Regions from separate parts of the Homo sapiens genome. Here region 2 is linked to region 1. The links come from fine-mapping of genetic effects on gene expression. A gene starts in region 1. The other region holds a variant in brackets. All regions are shown on one strand. Distances are between the middles of the regions. Region 1 holds the start of NMUR1 (neuromedin U receptor 1). Region 2 overlaps COPS7B (COP9 signalosome subunit 7B).

The links. PIP is the estimated chance that this variant, and not a neighbour inherited with it, causes the effect. A credible set is the group of variants that fine-mapping cannot tell apart.
Region 2: its variant is the best candidate, but not a certain one, in a credible set for the expression of NMUR1 in whole blood (TOPMed, PIP 0.59).

Annotation. Positions count from the first base shown.
Region 1 is chr2:231,527,457-231,532,828 of GRCh38, forward strand. It overlaps NMUR1 (neuromedin U receptor 1), which reads right to left and starts at 2,989. Exons shown (of 3, transcript NM_006056.5): 1 at 2,903-2,989; 2 at 667-1,561. The coding sequence starts at 2,905. LOC105376787 (a long non-coding RNA gene) reads left to right here and starts at 4,714. Exons shown (of 4, transcript XR_001739928.2): 1 at 4,714-5,372. RefSeq lists enhancers at 397-924, 925-1,451, 3,941-4,675 and a silencer at 2,817-3,246.
Region 2 is chr2:231,795,248-231,800,619 of GRCh38, forward strand. COPS7B (COP9 signalosome subunit 7B) reads left to right here. Exons shown (of 7, transcript NM_022730.4): 5 at 859-1,061; 6 at 3,612-3,717. Among named protein-coding and RNA genes, the nearest start is that of COPS7B, 11 kb to the left of the region's middle. The variant T/C (reference allele first, on the strand shown) is at 2,701.

The DNA of each region.
Region 1 (5,372 bases):
ACATAGTGAGACCCCGTCTCTACAAAAATGAAAAAATTAGCTGGGCATGGTGGCACCTGCCTGTAGCCCCAGCTACTTAGGAGGCTGAGTGAGGTAGGAGGATCGCTTGAGCCTGGGAGGTTGAGGCTGCAGTGAGCCGTGGTCACACCACAGCCTGAGTGACAGAGCAAGACCCTGTCTCAAAAAAAAAAAAAAAAAAAAAAAGAAGAGGAGAGACCTGAGACCTGGAGGGTCCAGATCCCATTTTCTGTCATCCTGGAGCCCAACCACATGCCCTGCCCTTTCTGTGTTTTGGTTCCAGAGCCAGGGCCCCAAGTTTAGCAGGGTCCTGGGCTTGGTTTAATGCTCTGTTGTTGCTGTCTTGACATTCTTATTCATTTTTGAAAAAGGGACCCTGAATTTTCATGTTGCACTGGACTCCACAAATTACACAATCTTACCGTTAGCCATTAACAGGTATTTTTGGTGTAAGATTCTAGTAGGGTAATCTAAAAGAGTACACAGGAGTGCAACTCAGACACACACACACACACACACACACACGAGACTAGAGGAGTTCCTCGTCCCCCATAAACCCAGATACTCAGCCCCTTCTCCCAGGCCCCAGGAGCCCCAAACTCATACCCAGTGCCTGGCTCAGCCCCTCTTCCCAGCCGTGACACTTACACAGCATCTTGGTCACTTGTCTCCGGCCCCGATCGTGCTGCTGGAGCCTGCAGGTGTATCTGGACCTGGCTGCTGCAGAGCCCCTGCCCTTGGCCTCCTGCATGAGCAGCAGCCTCTCCCGCCGCAGTCGCAGCCCAATGAGCAGGTAGAGCACGCTCATGATGGCCATGGGCAGGCAGAAGAAGAGCAGCGCGGTGGTCTGCACTACCATGTTGTAGAGGGCCCGTGGGCGGACCAGCATGCAAACAGCTGAGTCTGGCACTGGGCCCCGGCAGGGCACGTGCAGCTGCCGGATGCCGTGCAGGCTGGTGTTGGGCAGGGAGCAGAGCATGGCAAGACCCCAGACGGCCCCAAGCACTCGGCGCACATGGGCCCGCGTCACCATGGACCTGGCCTGGAGTGGGTGCACCACGGCCACATAGCGTTCCACGCTCAGGGCAGTGACGTTGAGCACTGAGGCCAGGCAGACCATCTCAAACAGTAGCGTGCGGAAATAGCAGCCACCAACGCCCAGCAGGAAGGGGTAGTTGTGCCACATCTCATAGAGCTCCAGGGGCAGGCCCACCAGCAGCACCAGCAGGTCCGACACGGCCAGGCTGAAGAGGTAGTAGTTGGTAGGCGTGCGCATGGCCTTGTGGCGCAGGATGACCAGACAGGTCAGCCCATTGCCCACAGCGCCCACCACGAAGATCAGCAGGTATGTGGCACAGATGGGCATGAACAGCTCTGTCTGCTGGGGCCCCAGGTACTTGAGTCTCAGTGCCTCGTCAGTCAGGTTCAAGTCCTCAGGGTCAAAGTGCCCCCTGGCCGCACTGCCATTGCAAGCCATGGGGTTCCTTGCACCCCCTGGGTACAGGTCTCCAGGGAGGACAGAGCAATTGAGGCAGAGAGGAGTCTGTGGAACAGAGGGGAGAGATGCCCAGAAAGATCATTCAGGGAATGCTGGCTCTGTCCTCACTCATCAAGCCAAAGGTGACATTAGCGCTATGATGACCATTATTTTAGGCACCACTGAGAAAGAAAAAACTCTTCCATCCACAAGTCAGAGATGTAAAAATAAGCTTGGTGCAGTGGCTCACACCTGTAATCCCAACACTTTGGTCGAGGCAGGCGGATCACTTGAGATCAGGAGTTCAAGACCAGCCTGGCCAATATGGTGAAACCCCGTCTCTACTAACAATACAAAAAGTAGCCGGGCGTGGTAGCACACGCCTGTAATTCCAGCTACTTGGGAGGCTGAGGCGGGAGAATTGTTTGAACCCAGGAGACAGAGGTTGCAGTGAGCGGAGATTGTGCCACCGGACTCCAGCCTGGGCAACAGAGAAAGACCTTGTCTCAAAAAAACAAAAAGCAAACAACGAAAAAGTAAAAATCTACATTTAAAAAAAAAAAAACACGTGGGGTTTTGATTTTAAATTTCATGATCTATTGGAACCTTTGAGTAAATGACAGATCTTGGGTGTCTCCTCTTTCAAGCAATGATGCTAGATGAGGCACTCGTTTGGGCATCTGTAAAATGGGCACAATGCCTGGTATTGCAGGGTCTTCAAGAGCAAGCGCTCAGGAAGCAACTGCCTGGATTCGAATCCAGCCTCCCCAGTTCCAGGCTGTGTGACCTTTAGCGAGGTAACCTCTCTGAGGCTGTTTCCCTATTAGGAGGATCCAGGGAGTTTAATCCATTAAAGACATTAACACAGGGCCTGCCTGGCATACGGAAGGGCACGGGGATCACCCCCTTGCTCTGGGGACCCAGTCACTATGAGAGTCAAGTGAGGGAGTGTCAAGGCTACACACTACAAATGCTTCATCCACAAGTTGATTCTTTTTTCTGTTTTCTGTCACCTGAACTGTTCAGTCTCCATATTTGACGCCCTTGGCACTGCCAGTTCTGGGGTTCCCTCTCCTCTATTGAGCCCCACACCCTTCCTCCCGCCCGCCCTCACCCCCGCTGCACAGCAGCGCGGGAGCCTCGGGAACCAGTTGGGAACGCGCAGGCGCCAGCCCGGGTTCAAGGGAGGCGCCCTGGTCCTCGAGGAAGGGTCGCAAGCCCGCAGCCCCCCGGCGCCCCTGGCCGGAAGACACAAATGACCCGAGAAGTTGCGAGGCTCCCCGGTGGCGGGGACGGGGGGCACCCCGACGGAGCCCTCGGACCCTTCCCGCCCTAGGACGACCCTGCCCGCACCGAGCCCCGGCCCAGCTGCCGCGCCCTAGCCCACGCCGGCGCCTGCGCACCTACCATGCGGCCCGCGGCCCGCGAGACCCCGGCTTCCACCCTCCGAGCGACGGACACAGACGCGGCGCGGGAGCCAGTGGACTGACTGACAGCGGCCCCAGCCCGCGCCCCGACGCCCCGCCTGTCCGGCCGGGAACGCCGCCAGGGGGCAGTGCAGTCCCCGCAGCCCGGGCGGCGCCCCCTCCCGCACTGGCGGAGGACGCGGCCGTTGGAGGCGACACCTCCACAAGCAGCGTGGAGGCGACACCTCCACAAGCAGCGTTATCTGACGGAACCCTCACAACAACCCGTTTTACAGATGAGAAAACTGAGCCTCAGAGAGCCGCAGAGGAGGAGCCCGAGAGACCTGGGGCTCACATGTGATTCCCGCCCTCCAGCGTGCTGAGTTTAGCTTAACGCCGTCACGGTGTCCCTGCGGCCTCCAGCTCCTCCTGCCCCCCATTCAGACCCACCTCCAAGGACAGGGACGGCCCACCAGCCCCTTGAAGTCGACATGCCCCGGTGCGGTTCATCCTCCCAGGCTCCAGGCCTCTTCTTCTGTCCCAAGGCCCATGATTGCAGCCTCCGCAGCCCCTCTCACCCGCTGCTCCCTTCGGGGCCTCCAGTCCCTGAGTCCAGGCGCTCGGCCCTGCAGGACTGGGCAAGAGCCCCCTATTCTCCCTCCAGTCCATCCTCCCACAGCCACCAACGACCATCACCCCCTCGAAACCCTTCCTTGGGGCCCCCCCACTGCCTTCTGAAAAAGAGCACACCAAAGTCTAGCCTGGGGGTGGACCTCCCCACTCCTCACCTGCCTCCCTGGGCCACCCTCTCCTCACCATTGTCCTCAGCCCCAAATACTGTCCCCCTTATCCGTTCAAATGTTCTTCTGCCCCCATCACTGTACCAAGGGTGGGGGTATAGACAAGGATGGAGGGAATTTAGGGAAGGGTTAAGAATGCCCAGCCACAGCCTCCTGCTCCCCCACACTGCCCACATGCAAATCCCAGTGCCTCACCTGCTCCCACTCCCTAGTCCTGCAATCAGCTCCTTAGCTGGAAGCTGTTTCATCAGAAACTTCTAGGGACCCTAGAAATGACGGATCACACAGAGTAAAATGCTGGTTCCGGGGCCTTTGCCCAGAGTTTTGTCTCCTTAGCCTGGGCAAGGCCCAGAAATCCTCATGTTTGACAAACGCCCTCTGGAGAGCCCCATGCCCCAGAATCACACTGAGGAGCACCAGGAGAGGTTACAAAGCCACAGGACCCCGAGAGGCCACCGTGAGCTCAGAAGCTCTGTGTGCCTCAGTTCCCCTTCCTGTAGAATGGGCTAACCACCATCGCCACTATTGTGAAGGTGACATGAGACACTGAGCGTCAAGATTCAGCACAGGGGCTGGCACATGGCCAACACTCAAGAAATGTGGGGTGGGATTGTCACCATTTAGTGGCAACTGGAGGCTCCTCCTTCCCCCCGCTTTCCTGCACCCTCCTCCTCCCCACTGCCCCCCAATTCCATAAGTCACTGTCTGGGCTTGGGGATGGGAGTTAGGCCCTCAAGGAGCCTGCACCAGGCCGGCCTTCCCAGGAACTCCACATGTAAACAGAGTCCCAGGCAGGGGACGGTTGTGGGAAGTGCAGGGGCACGTGGTCCTCAGGGCCTTGGGAGAAAGGATTCTGTGGTGCCCTGGGAATTAACTACTCAGCCCCTGATGAGCTAGTCCAGGAGAAATCCTCAGTAACAGGGCTGCCAGCACAACAGACGGGCAAGGAGGGATGACATCACTCAGCATCAGAGACCACTGTGGCATCACAGGCTGCTCTTAGCAAGTGAGGAGCATTTGGACCCCAGCCCTTCACTGGAACACACACACACACGCACATGCATGTACACACACATACACACACATGCATGCACACATCACTCTGCACATACCACACCACACACACGCGCACACACATACCACTCTGCACAGACTCTGAGCAGTCCGAAAGTCCCCGTGGACCCTTTGGTTCACACAGCCCTGGAGGGGATGGGGAAGGACCCACCTAGCCTTGCAGAGGCAGAATGACTCTTGCCAGTCAGGAATTCCTACAGCGGGTTGCATCATTCACATAACATTAGCAGCCATCAAAGGCTAAAGAGCAGCCCCCAAAAAGGAGAGGCTCAGTGGCCACAATGGCTGTGGCCCTCACTTCCGCACTGTGCAGAGGGCCCTAGGGGCCCTGGCCTCCGGGCCTGAGCTCAAGGCCACCACGGTAGTGTCCCATCAGAAACGTATGACATCCTGCTGCTCCTGCTCCGTCCTGAGGTGGCACCCCCCAGTTTTCTGGGTGTACACATCCATCTAAGCTTGGCTGGTGGGCGTCTGCCCAGATGAGGGGGCCAAGGACCCAACTCTGCACAACAGCAAATGCATTCAGGGAGGGCCACTGGGACCTCCAGGAGCTGCTGAGATACCACCCAAGTCCCAGGCGTGTGCAGGACTCATGGG
Region 2 (5,372 bases), 270 kb after region 1:
GACAAGGGTCTCACCATGTTGCCTAGGCTGGTCTCAACCCCCTGACTTCAAGCGATCCTCCCATCTCAGCCTCCCAAAGTGTTGGGATTACAGGTGTGAGCCACTGCACTTGGTTTTTTTGTTCTTGGATTGCAATTTCAGTTGCTGAAATCATTTTATCTGATCTAATGGCACATTTCTGATTCTCAGCCTAGCATTTCAGGTGGGAGGCCTATTTTGTTGTGAAATGAGGACCTGACCTTTTTTCTTGTACTGATTGTGGACTTCTCAAGTGTAGTAAAGAATGTTGGTACAGCCCAATAAAGAACTATTGTTGGGGAATTCATATTGGTTGTGTCTGAGAAAACAGATACAAACTTCAGGGTGACATCTGAGCTGGCAGTACCCATTGGCCACCTATAGGTAGATATGCTGGCCTGCAAGTTTTTTTTGTTTGTTTTTGCACTCTGCTGGGCAAGTAGCCAGCTCTTTCCAGTGACTGGGATCTGTTGGAGATTTATGGTGATCTAGCAAAGTCTGAAAGCTTCCAGAAGGTGGCAGAGTGGCATATACTCAGTAGTTCCCTTTCTCTCCACTGGTACAAGTTTTTAGGATCTCTACAAGTATGCTGCAGCATGTGAAATCTGAAGGCTGGGTGAAGCCAAGGAGGCAGAGAACCAGGAGGTTGCTTTCTTAGATGTTGGGTCTTCTAGGTCTCATGGTTCATTTATCCACCTCTTGTTGCCCTAGCTATTAATAATTACCACTAGCCTGCGTTTCCCGAGCCTAGAGGCAGCTGTTGGCTATGGGAGTAATACCTGCATTTTCGCTAATGCTTGCCAGATGGTTTTTATAATGATCACATGGCCTTATCTACAGTGTATCCCCTACTCCGTGTTGCTGAAAGACCTGGAGATGCGGAATCTCCGGGAACTAGAAGACCTTATCATTGAGGCTGTCTACACTGACATCATCCAGGGCAAGCTGGACCAGCGAAACCAGCTGCTGGAAGTGGATTTCTGCATTGGCCGTGACATCCGAAAGAAGGATATCAATAATATTGTCAAGACCCTGCATGAATGGTGAGGCTAAAAGGAGGAGGGGGATATCTAGCATGTCTTTTGTGCCTCTCCTTGCAAAAATGTGATTCCCTGGTGTCAGCTGAGGGTTTGGGGTGGGCCTGTAGCTACCTGGGAGCTGGGGCTTAGTGAGCCGGAGAGTGGAGCTACATTTGTGATCACAGCTGTGTGATAACAGGAGTCATTTCAGGCCTCCTGGTGCCTTGGTTGTAAAATAGTTCTTTCCTTAAATGCAACTGGGAGCTATTTAAAAGTGGGCTATAAAATGCCCAGGGTTAGCAGGTGGAGCCTATGTGTCCTAGCTGTGTGAGGCTAGTCCTGCCCTTTCCAAACTCACGCTCAAAGTTTGACCAAACTCAGGAAGGCTAGTGTTTGTAAGATTCTTTCTTTGTTTTTATTATTTTTTCTATCCCTGTTGAAGTTAACATGTTTATAAGATTCTTCGGATAAAAGAACTTACGTTCAAAATCAGTAACATATTGGGCTAATGTTTGTAAAACACCGTGAGGGACATGGAAGACAAGGAGTGGGTCATTTTAACTTGGAATACAGACTCATACAAAGAATATCTGATAACTATACTCTGGTATATAAAAAGCATTGGGACATTTGTGTTTTCTCTGTTTTAATGGAATTTGATATTTGTAAGAGCTGTCTCACATTCTACGAGGATTCACTGTGGAGTGATTTAAATTATTTGGGGCTTATAAAGCCAGATGGACTGATTGGAGAAGTTTTAGCTCAGTTTTGAAGGAAGGCCAGGGTTAGAGTATACCTGGAGGTGAGGAGAGTGTGTTCCCAGGCAGGCACGTGGCATGTTGGAAGCCATGAAGCAGACCCGGTGAGCTTTGTACACAGGTTCGGGAGGGAGAGAGAATCTCTGCTCATCCCCGAGAGAAGCATATCCAGAGAGGAGCAGTGCCACTTTGACTCCTTGGGGCCTGATGTCCCCTGAGTTTCCCTCACTTCAGCTACTTTTACACCCCAGGACATGTGTTGCTCACCCCTCACCCCAAGTTCTGTCCCAAATATAGCCCCAAACACCTTCTCTATACAACATCTGCCACAAGTGGAAGTTTTCAATAGCTTACAAAACTTAGAATAAATAAGAAATAAACTTAGAAATACCCCAACACAAAAATGGTCTGGCACACAAAATCTAGTTTCTGAACCTGCCAAAGTTGGCTGTCCTATTCTGTTTTTGAGATGGCTGACACAGCTTTTTATGTCCATAGTCTGGTTTCCTGTTTTTAAGCCCCCAATATGTTTGACATAGAGGTGCCAGACTAACTGGTTACCATGGGATGTTTACTAGTAGAAACTCTTACAACTCATGTTTAGGCACTGGAGGTAGATTGAAACAAAATTCATAGGCTGAGGGCTACCACATATATGGCAAAATGCTCACACTGTTGGATCTTAAGTGGAGGGTATGGGGATATTCATTGTAGTCTTTCAACTTTTTCATTTTTAAAAAAATTAATAGTGGGGAAAATAGGAGGAGGGGTATGGCAATTAGGAAGTAACTTAAACTTCTGAGAAAAGGCGGAATCTTCAAAACAGGATGCTTTTAGGAAATCTTTTTTTGTTTGTTGTTTTTTGAGACAGTTTTGCTCTTGTTGCCCAGGCTGGAGTGCAATAG[T/C]GCGATCTCAGCTCACCGCAACCTCTGCCTCCCAGGTTCAAGCGATTCTCCTGCCTCAGCCTCCCTAGTAGCTGGGATTACAGGCGTGTGCCACCAGGCCTGGCTAATTTTGTATTTGTAGTAGAGACGGGGTTTCTCCATGTTGGTCAGGCTGGTCTCGAATTCCCGACCTCAGGTGATCCGCCTGCCTCGGCCTCCCAAGGTGCTGGGATTACAGGCATGAGCCACTGCGCCTGGCCTAGAACATCTTTTTTTTCTGTTGAGAAAAGGATTACTCAGTGCCATCTATAAAATCTATTCTACCTTCTTTTTTTTTTTTTTTTTTTTGCGGCAGAGTTTCGCTCTGTCACCCAGGCTGGAGTGCAATTGCGTGGTCTCAGCTCACTGCAACCTCCGCCTCCCGGGTTCAAGTGATTCTCCTGCCTCAGCCTCCCAAGTAGCTGGGATTACAGGCACCCGCCACCACACCTGGCTAATTTTTGTATTTTTAGTAGAGATGGGGTTTCACTGTGTTGGCCAGGCTGGTCTCGAACTCCTGACCTGGTGATCCACCCACCTCGGCCTCTCAAAGAGCTGGGATTACAGGTGGGAGCCACTGCACCCGGCCTGTCCTACCTTCTTTAATCGTATGTGCTACAAAACCATCTTCCATGAGATACAAAGTTGAAAATTAAAGCTGTATTCTAAGAAACTAGCCCCAGACTACCATATTTGTCTCCTAATGTCCTGCATTATGTATTTAGAAGTGCTTGTCTTTGGGAAGGAGTGAACGGGCAAGAGATGTGGCAGAGGGAGTATTAAAGGAGGTCCCTGTAAGATACTGGGGAGAGCTGTTGGGGAAGAATATTTCTGAGCCTGGAAGAGACTTCCCAGGCCATTCTGCAGCTCAGGGCTGGTTTTCTCCATTGTAGGTGTGATGGCTGTGAAGCAGTTCTACTGGGCATCGAGCAGCAAGTTCTGAGAGCCAACCAGTACAAAGAGAACCACAACCGAACTCAGCAGCAGGTAGAAGCAGAGGTAAGGAAGGAAAGGAACATTTGTTTCTCTCTCCAGGCATACCTGTTTATTCGTTTGCAGTGTTTATGTTTTTGTTTTGCGAATCTTGGTGTAGATGAAACAAGCAGTCACCAACAAGTGGGCCTGGGCTAGGTGCTGGGTTACAGGGATGAGTGTGACACGGCTCCTGCTCTTGGTGTTCTGTCTCTTTTTTCTGATTCCTGGTCAGCATAGGGTGATCAATCAGGCTTGGAGAACAGAGAATGTTGTAGTTTCAGTACACATGTACTTTGCAGCTATAGAGCAAAAGAAAATGAGTTTGGGGATGGATCTTAAAAATGGATAGAAGGATGGTGGTAAGTTACCAGGTGGAGTGGAGGGAGGGGTACAGCTGGGCAGGGGCATGTGGGGCTTCAAGGCCCTGGGAGTGTTCTGCTTCTTAAGTTGCGTGGTGGGCACATAGTTTCATTTTATTCTTTCTCTGTGAACTGTACATATATATTATAAATGTGTAAAATGCATGACATGTTTCATACGGAAAGAAGAAAGGGATAAAATTTGGCAGATGAGCTGCAAGTGAAGTAAAGAGGATGTAAGTGTGGTTTTAGTGACACCTGGTTGTTGAGGAAACTTTTAGCTTCTTGGACAGATGTAGGCCCCAGCCTTTGCGTTATGGGCATTTGTGTACCTGTAACCTGACACATGAAGTGACCTCACTTCACAATTTATTTGGAGCCCTGCACTGATTTTCCTTAGCATTGGAAGTTCTTTTCTAGTGTGAATGGAGTTTGAAGTATTAATGATGCTTAATGAATTTTGAAAATCAGGTGTCTAAGAGTGGCGGAGTGGGACCCGTAATTCCAGCTAAGAAGCATAAGAGATGAGTAGATGGTGCCTTTCAAAGGGGGATTTGTGAAATTTGGAGTGATTCTCTATACTGTTATATGCACTCCTTGAAAATAAAACCTGTGTCCTATTTGTAAGACGAGCGTCTTGTCTCATGCCTAACCCATAGTAGGTACTCAAATGTTGAACTGAATATTTCTGGCACACCATAAAAGTGTGTCAGTGGACTGCTGAACTCTGCTTTTCATGAACTTGAGCTAATTTTTTTGAATACACACACACACCACCCTATATACATATACTCTGTGGATGTTCAATTCATAGACCATGTTTAATCCGACTAGCCAAGGAAGTATGAGGCTGGGTGCAGTGGTTCACACCTGTAATCCCAACACTTTGAGAGACCGAGGAGGAAGTATTGCGTGAGTCCAGGAGTTCGAGACCAGCCTGGGCAAGGAAGTGTTAACTATATTTAACATTAGTCCAAAGCAAAGACAATTAGGAAAATAAGCTTGCTGCTTTTCTAATAAGCTGTGCAACAACCCTCTTGATGATGGTGGCCTTTTCTCTGACTTGGGATTGAGGTCTGAACAAAGTAGGAAGGGCTAACCGCTTTCTCCTTTCTGTTTATTCTTCCCTATAAATCAAACTCTGTACAAAATGAGGTTGGGAGGCTAACCACACTACCTAATCTTTGGTATCAAGGTCATTAACAAAGATGAATGATACTTGTTTTAGAATTTTGAACTGTTCAAGTTTATTTTCATTATAAATAGCATCAGACAAAAGAAAGGCGGGTGTGCACAGAGCTATTGTAGACACTTGGCTAA